Homo sapiens: one gene and its partner. The protein of the gene in region 2 purifies or fractionates together with the protein of the main gene of each other region. This does not show direct contact. Each region holds a gene or a part of one and is shown on either strand. Other genes may lie near its edges.

Region 1 (3,500 bases), on a different chromosome or scaffold from region 2:
AACAACATGCTGGGCATGGTGGCTCGTGTCTATAATCCCAGCTCTTTGGGAGGCCAAGGCAGGAGGATCACTTGAGGCCAGGGTTTGAGACCAGCCTGGGCAACATGGTGAAACCCCCATCTCTACAAAAATTACTTTTAAAAATTAGCTGGGTGTGGCCAGGCACGGTGGCTCACGCCTGTAATCCCAGCACTTTGGGAGGCTGAGACGGGCAGATCACCTGAGGTCGGGAGTTTGAGACCAGCCTGACCAACATGGAGAAACCCCTTCTCTACTAAAAATACAAAATTAGCTGGGCATGGTGGCACATGCCTGTAATCCGAACTACTCGGGAGGCTGAGGCGGGAGAATTGCTTGAACCCAGAAGGCGGAGGTTGTGGTGAGCTGAGATTGCACCATTGCACTCCAGCCAGGACAACAAGAGCAAAACTCCGTCTCAAAAAAAAAAAAAAAAAAAATTAGCTTGGCATGGTGGCCTGCACCTGTGGTCCCAGCTACCAGGGAGACTGAAGTGGGAGAATCTCCTGATCCCAGGAGGCAGAGGCTGCAGTGAGCCAGGATTGTGCCATTGCTCTCCAGCCTGGATGACAGAGTGAAACCCAATCTCAAAAAACAAACAAAAAAAAGAGGCTGGGCACGGTAGCTCACGCCTGTAATCCCAGCACTTTGGGAGGCCAAGGCTGGTGGATCACAAGGTCAGAAGTTCAAGACCAGCCTGGCCAAGATGGTGAAACCCCATCTCTACTAAAAATACAAAAATTAGCCAGGCATGGTGGCAGGTGCCTGTAATCCCAGCTACTCGGGAGGCTGAGGCAGAGAGTTGCTTGAACCTGGGAGGCGGAGGTTGCAGTGAGCCGAGATTGTGCCACTGCATTCTAGCCTGGGTGACAGAGCAAGACTGCATCTCAAAAAAAAAAAAAAAAGCAATAAAACAAGTTCGTGCAAGGCTTTTCCACTATAAAGGAATCCTCTTCTCTTTTTTCCCTCTAGATACTTGTGTCCTTTTGTTCCTTTATGTTCATGGTTTTGTGTCTTGGCCACAGCTTTCCAGGCTAAATAACTGTGATTCTTCCTGCATTGATTGATCTGAGATATTTTGCTTACTTATTGGTCTGGAGAAATTTTTTGTAACAGACCTCAAAGCATATCTTGGTTTATTTTAGCCCTGCGGGAGGCAAGAAGCCTACAAACTGCTACTTCTGGACACTGACTGTTGATGATATGATGCTTTCTCTTGATTGATGGTTCTCCTGTCTTCATTCTCCAGATGTGACTCCCTGCATGTCTCCTCTGCCACATGACAGTCCTTTAATAGAGAAGCCAGGCTTGGGGCAGATAGAGGAAGAGAATGAAGGGGCAGGATTTAAAGCACTTCCTGGTAAGGGATTAAACATTTGTAAAGTATTTGCATCCTCCCTTTCCATATCATACCCTATTTTACAGCTATCCCCTACTGACCCTACCTTAGCATGTAAATGGGCTTGCTTTCTGTAGCATCTCATGTTTTGAAGTCTCCTCACCTTCACATGGCACAGATAGCAGCTATTCCTTGGTTTAGTTTTAGCATGGGTAATGACTGGTGAATGTTCTTCAGCACTTTAAACACCAAGTGCAGACAAAGTTTAGATAGCAGCTATTCCTTGGTTTAGTTTTAGCATGGGTAATGACTGGTGAATGTTCCTCAGCACTTTAAACACCCAGTGCAGATAAGGTTCGTGTGTCTTTCAGATTCTATGGTGTCAGTAAAGAGGAAGGCTGAGAACATTGCTTCTGTGGAGGAAGCAGAAGAAGACCTGAGTGGGACCCAGTTTGTGTGTGAGACAGTAATCCGATCCCTTACCTTGGATGCTGCCCCAGACCACAACCCTCCTTGCAGACAGAAGTCCTTGCAGAGTGAGTGTCCTTGCATTTCCCCTACCTAGCAGGGTGGCACCTGAATTGTGACTGCCAGACTTGACTAGTTAGATGTGCTCTTCTTCACTGAGACTGAAGGGAGAGTGATCTTAGTTAGAAGTTCTGATCTTGGCGGGGCGTGGTGGCTCAAGCCTGTAATCCCAGCACTTTGGGAGGCCAAGGCAGGCGGATCACAAGGTCAGGAGATCAAGTCCATCCTGGCTAACATGGTGAAATCCCATCTCTACTAAAAATACAAAAAATTAGCCTGGCGACGTGGCGGGTGCCTGTAGTCCCAGCTACTCGGGAGGCTGAGGCAGGAGAATGGCATGAACCCGGGAGGCGGAGCTTGCAGTGAGCCAAGATTGCGCCACTGCACTCTAGCCTGGGCGACAAAGCGAGACTCCATCTCAAAAAAAAAAAAAGAAATTCTGATCTTGTTTGTGTCTTTAGACTCTACGTATGCTACCTGACTGTTCTAATTAGAGCATCAGGAGTAAAGAAGCCATCATACTCATTTCTCCATCTTCTCAGGGGCAGAATTACAGCTGCATTCCACAGTGGAATAGCAGCCAGTTGTGCTGCCTGGATTCTGCAGTAAGGAATCTTCCTGTAATTTGACAGAGCTCCTTAGCAGAGACCCCTATGGGTAGCTGAGTTGTCTGCTTTCTCCAAGGGCAGCAGTCCCAGAAACAGTGGATAGAAGCAGGAGTACCAACAAAGTTTCTCAAGGTTAAATTCTGCTGTAATAAATACCTTTATAGGCCGGGCACAGTGGCTCACCCTTGTAATCCTAGCACTTTATGAGGCTGAGGCGGGTGGATCACCTGAGGTTGGGAGTTCGAGACCAGCCTGACCGACATGGAGAAACCCCATCTCTACTAAAAATACTAAAAATTAGCCAGGTGTGGTGGCTACATGCCAAGGATTACATGCCTGTAATCCCAGGTACTTGGGAGGCTGAGGCAGGAGAATCACTTTAACCCGGGAGGCGAAGGCTGTGGTTAGCCGAGATGGCGCCATTGCACTCCAGCCTGGCAACAAGAGTGAAACTCCGTCTCAAAAAAAAAAAAAGGAATAAATACCTTTATAACAGAAACTTCTAGGTATCAGATAGATAGAACCAATAGCATATATTTTAAGAAGTATCCAAAAATTCAAATATACTATGTCAAAATAATATTGGAGAATCTCTTTATTATAATCAAATTTGACCTATATCTTTAAATATTATTTATCTTACTTTTGTTTAAAGTATACATGTAAGGCCAGGCGCAGTGGCTCACGCCTGTAATCCCAGCACTTTGTGAGGCCGAGGCGGACAGATCACAAGCTCAGGAGTTTGAGACCAGCCTGACCAACATGGAGAAACCCCATTTCTACTAAAAATACAAAAATTAGCTGGGCGTGGTAGCGTGTGCCTGTGATCCAGCTACTCAAGACGCTGAGGCAGGAGAACTGCTTGAACCCGGGAAGCCAAGGTTGCAGTGAGCTGAGATCGCACCACTGCACTCCAGCCTGGGTGACAGAGCGAGACTCCGTCTAAAAAAAAAAAATAATAAAGTGTACATGTGGCCAGGTGCGGTGGCTCATACCTGTAATCCCAG
Region 2 (3,239 bases):
AAATATCTGGGATCCCGATGTTCTTAATAAATCCTGACTTCCCAAGAAATGCTTCTTTTTTAAGTTGACAAAAGGAATGGGGAACTGGCAGGCCGCGCAGAAGGTTCTTGGTTTTAATGGATAGGCTGAATTGGATTAAGAAAAGTTGAATGCCACCTATGGTAATCTATTTGTGATTTTCTTCTAAATTATGTATTATAAATTCGTAGAGCTATAGAAAGCAATGAGTGTGTAATTTGGAGTGATTTTATATATGGCATAAACTTTGTTTTAACATAATTAGTACTGTTTTCCCCCAAAAGTACAAGTTTTTGAGTAGCAATGTCAGGTTAAGTAAAGAAACTTCATCACATCTTATAGGTAGTGTGTGGCCAATTGACTTAAAAAATACAAATAACATTTAGGAAGCAAATAGATTAAACACAAAAATAAAACTAAAGCATAGGAATTATGTTTTTGAGATACCTTTGGGCTTAGATTGGCATTGTTTTATTCTAAAAACCCAACTCAGTGGTGTAGAGAAACTTGTGTACCAAAATTTTAGTTTCTGCAGATGCTAGTGTTTTTTTGGATACAATTTTGACAACCAAGTTAGTAAACAAAATATCTTAACAGTTTGATGACACAAGCTACTGATGAGGGTTTGGAATATTAATTCAGAAGGTAGTTTCTCTTGTGTTCAAAATAGCTGCCATGGGGCTGTTACTTTTAAAGTCAAAATTTTCTTCTGAAGGCTCATTTTGGTATTTGATCTTAACCAAGTGATTATTAGAGAAATGTATCAACTCCATGCCATCTCCCAAAATAATTGTCTAAGAAAACTTGAAAGTGTAAGGTTTTAACCTTTAATTTATTTCTCTTAAATACATCTTTTGATATTGTTGTTGTGACATTTCTTTTTCTGGTTAGTGGGCTTTCCAGACTTTGTACCACTGCTTCTGTTTATTCATTTATATGCTTTTGTGTCCCATAAATTATTTCAGAAAATGCTGATAAAACTCAGGATATTGACATTTTTGTTGAGACTAAAAAATGGCAGTCGCTAAAGTAGGGACTCTAGAGTCTGGCTTACGTCAGTGTTGGTAGTTTAGATTGTCTTTGTCAACGTTTTTTCTTCTCTCTTTTGCTTTCTTTTCTTTCTCTTTTTTTCTTAGCACAGTTCTAGCTCAAATTTGTGTATTTTTTGTGTGCCTGGGCTGGAGATGAGAGACTGAGTCATAACTGATTTAAAAGTTTGTGTTATCAGGTATCTTATTTGAACATGGTCATTTTTGGCCACATTGCTGTTTCATACTAGGACTTGGGATGATGTAGCCAGAATAAAACTCAAGTTGCACCCTCCGGTTGGTGGAAGATTGCTGACCGTGCCGTTTCTGGGCAGGAGAAGACATCATGGTGTCCAGCAACTCAGCAAAGCCATTCTTAAGAGTCGTGAGGTCCTTCTGAATGTAAAACTGGAGCCCAGGAGAAGCTGTCCCAGGAGGGCTGTTAACTCCCTATAGAGCCAGGAGACAGGATAGGGGTTTCTAGGGTCCAACACCAGCTTACCTTGGAGTATGAATCTACCCATGAAGGATGAGAGATGTTTTGAAAAACTAGCCAGGACACACCCACAGGATCCTACTGGCTCCTTAGCAGCTGATTGGTGTTACATAATTAACTTAATTGGAGATGCATTAGGTCACTTGAATGTATAAGCAAGCACCTATGGTAGGCGCTACAGACATTTAAATCTCTTGGGAATTCGATGCTCCCATGGAATTTATACCAGTTATATGAATTGACTTAAGTATCTTGAAAAAGAAACTTTAGAGAAAGCATCAGGGGTGTGTACTCAGTATTTCAAATCAGAACACAAGATTGGAACTTTTGGAAAAATGGGTTCAAGCTTTCCTATTAGCCATGGAAATGCAAAGTTTAGCAGAAGCAAGCAATTAGGCAGAGAACAAAAATGTTAAGCATGGTGTTGTCTATCTTATTGAAGTGGTTGGAAATGAAAGCTTTTAATTTGATAGATTTATCAGTATAAAATTAGGGAAACCACGTGTGGGGAATGAATCAATTTAGAGCTTCGGGAATTGTGAGGTGACTTTTGTAACTTTTGTTCTGTGTGTGACCTGTGAACCACTAGGATGTGATCTGCCCTTGTGGGCAGGTCCAGCATAGTTAGGAGTTAGGCTTTAGCATAAATTTCTAGCTGCATCTGAGTCTCCTGGGATGGGTGCTCTTTGGCTGGTTTTGGCTGCGGATGGTGAGATCAGAGCAGCTCTTCCTGCTGCTGGCCCCTGCAATCAGTTGTTGGGATGCCAGTGCAGATCACTAAGTAGTAAGATTTTAATCAAACACGACCAGGTCCGAAATGCAGGTCATGAGTGTGAAATTCTCAAATTTACATAAAAAGTAGAAGTATAGACAGTTTAACATTTGGTATTAAAGGAGAGGAAATTGTAGCAGCTTTTCACGTTTCCCAGTCCCCATTAGAGGGCTTGAGACCTTGTACCTGAACAACCCATTTTGCACTCAGTGCTTTCTGATGCCTTAGGAGAATTGTTTTGTTTCACAAAAGCTGGGAAGGAAGAAGTCCATTCTGCAGCTGTTAGATCTGCCTCTCAGGAAAAAGTACTAACTTGTTCTTTTTGTTCCTGGCTTTCATCAGTTTGTGAGATTTCTCTATTTTTTTTAAATATAATTTTATTTCTTTCAACAAATATAAAATAAAAAACAACTTTGGAACAATGACTTGTCTTTCATCGTGGCTTTCTTTATATTAGATACCAAAAAGCAGTCCAGATGTTAAACAGCTGGGAAGCCCAGGCAGGTGCCTTGCTGTCTTTCCTGTTCCCACACTGGACGGCTGGGGGTAGGGGTGGGGAAAGTGGGGAGACAGGCAGAGGTATTTGTGTCCAAGTCTAGATCTCCCCGTTTGCCCTTAGTGGATAGGAAAATAGTTTTCTCTGAACATGGGATACATCTTTAGTTATATTTTTAGTCACTTGGTCTAAACTAAAAATTATACCAGAATAGGGAAAGGAATAACTGAATAAATGGGTTCCCGCTTAATCACCTAGTGTCTCAGAACATGGTTTCCATTTAGAGAGGGAAGAAATTCTTATGTTTCGAGATAGATAGTCAAGAATTTAAAGTAAGGCCTTTCCCCATCTGGAGTTTTGTAGTACATGTGGACACTGTCCTCATTTACGTCATAGAGTGTCTGTAGAGATGAATTTGCTGATTTCATA

Evidence for each region.
Region 1: the proteins of CEBPG (region 2) and NBR1 purify together in Homo sapiens (affinity purification with mass spectrometry; one large-scale study listed by BioGRID and IntAct). This does not show direct contact.

The regions. Positions count from the first base shown.
Region 1 is NC_000017.11:43,195,214-43,198,713, forward strand, and holds part of NBR1 (next to BRCA1 gene 1 protein), read left to right. Parts: intron 1-1,267; coding exon 1,268-1,378; intron 1,379-1,728; coding exon 1,729-1,893; intron 1,894-3,500. UniProt on the Homo sapiens protein: Ubiquitin-binding autophagy adapter that participates in different processes including host defense or intracellular homeostasis.
Region 2 is NC_000019.10:33,379,948-33,383,186, forward strand, and holds the end of CEBPG (CCAAT/enhancer-binding protein gamma), read left to right. Parts: 3' UTR 1-2,739; downstream 2,740-3,239. UniProt on the Homo sapiens protein: Transcription factor that binds to the promoter and the enhancer regions of target genes. Binds to the enhancer element PRE-I (positive regulatory element-I) of the IL-4 gene. Binds to the promoter and the enhancer of the immunoglobulin heavy chain.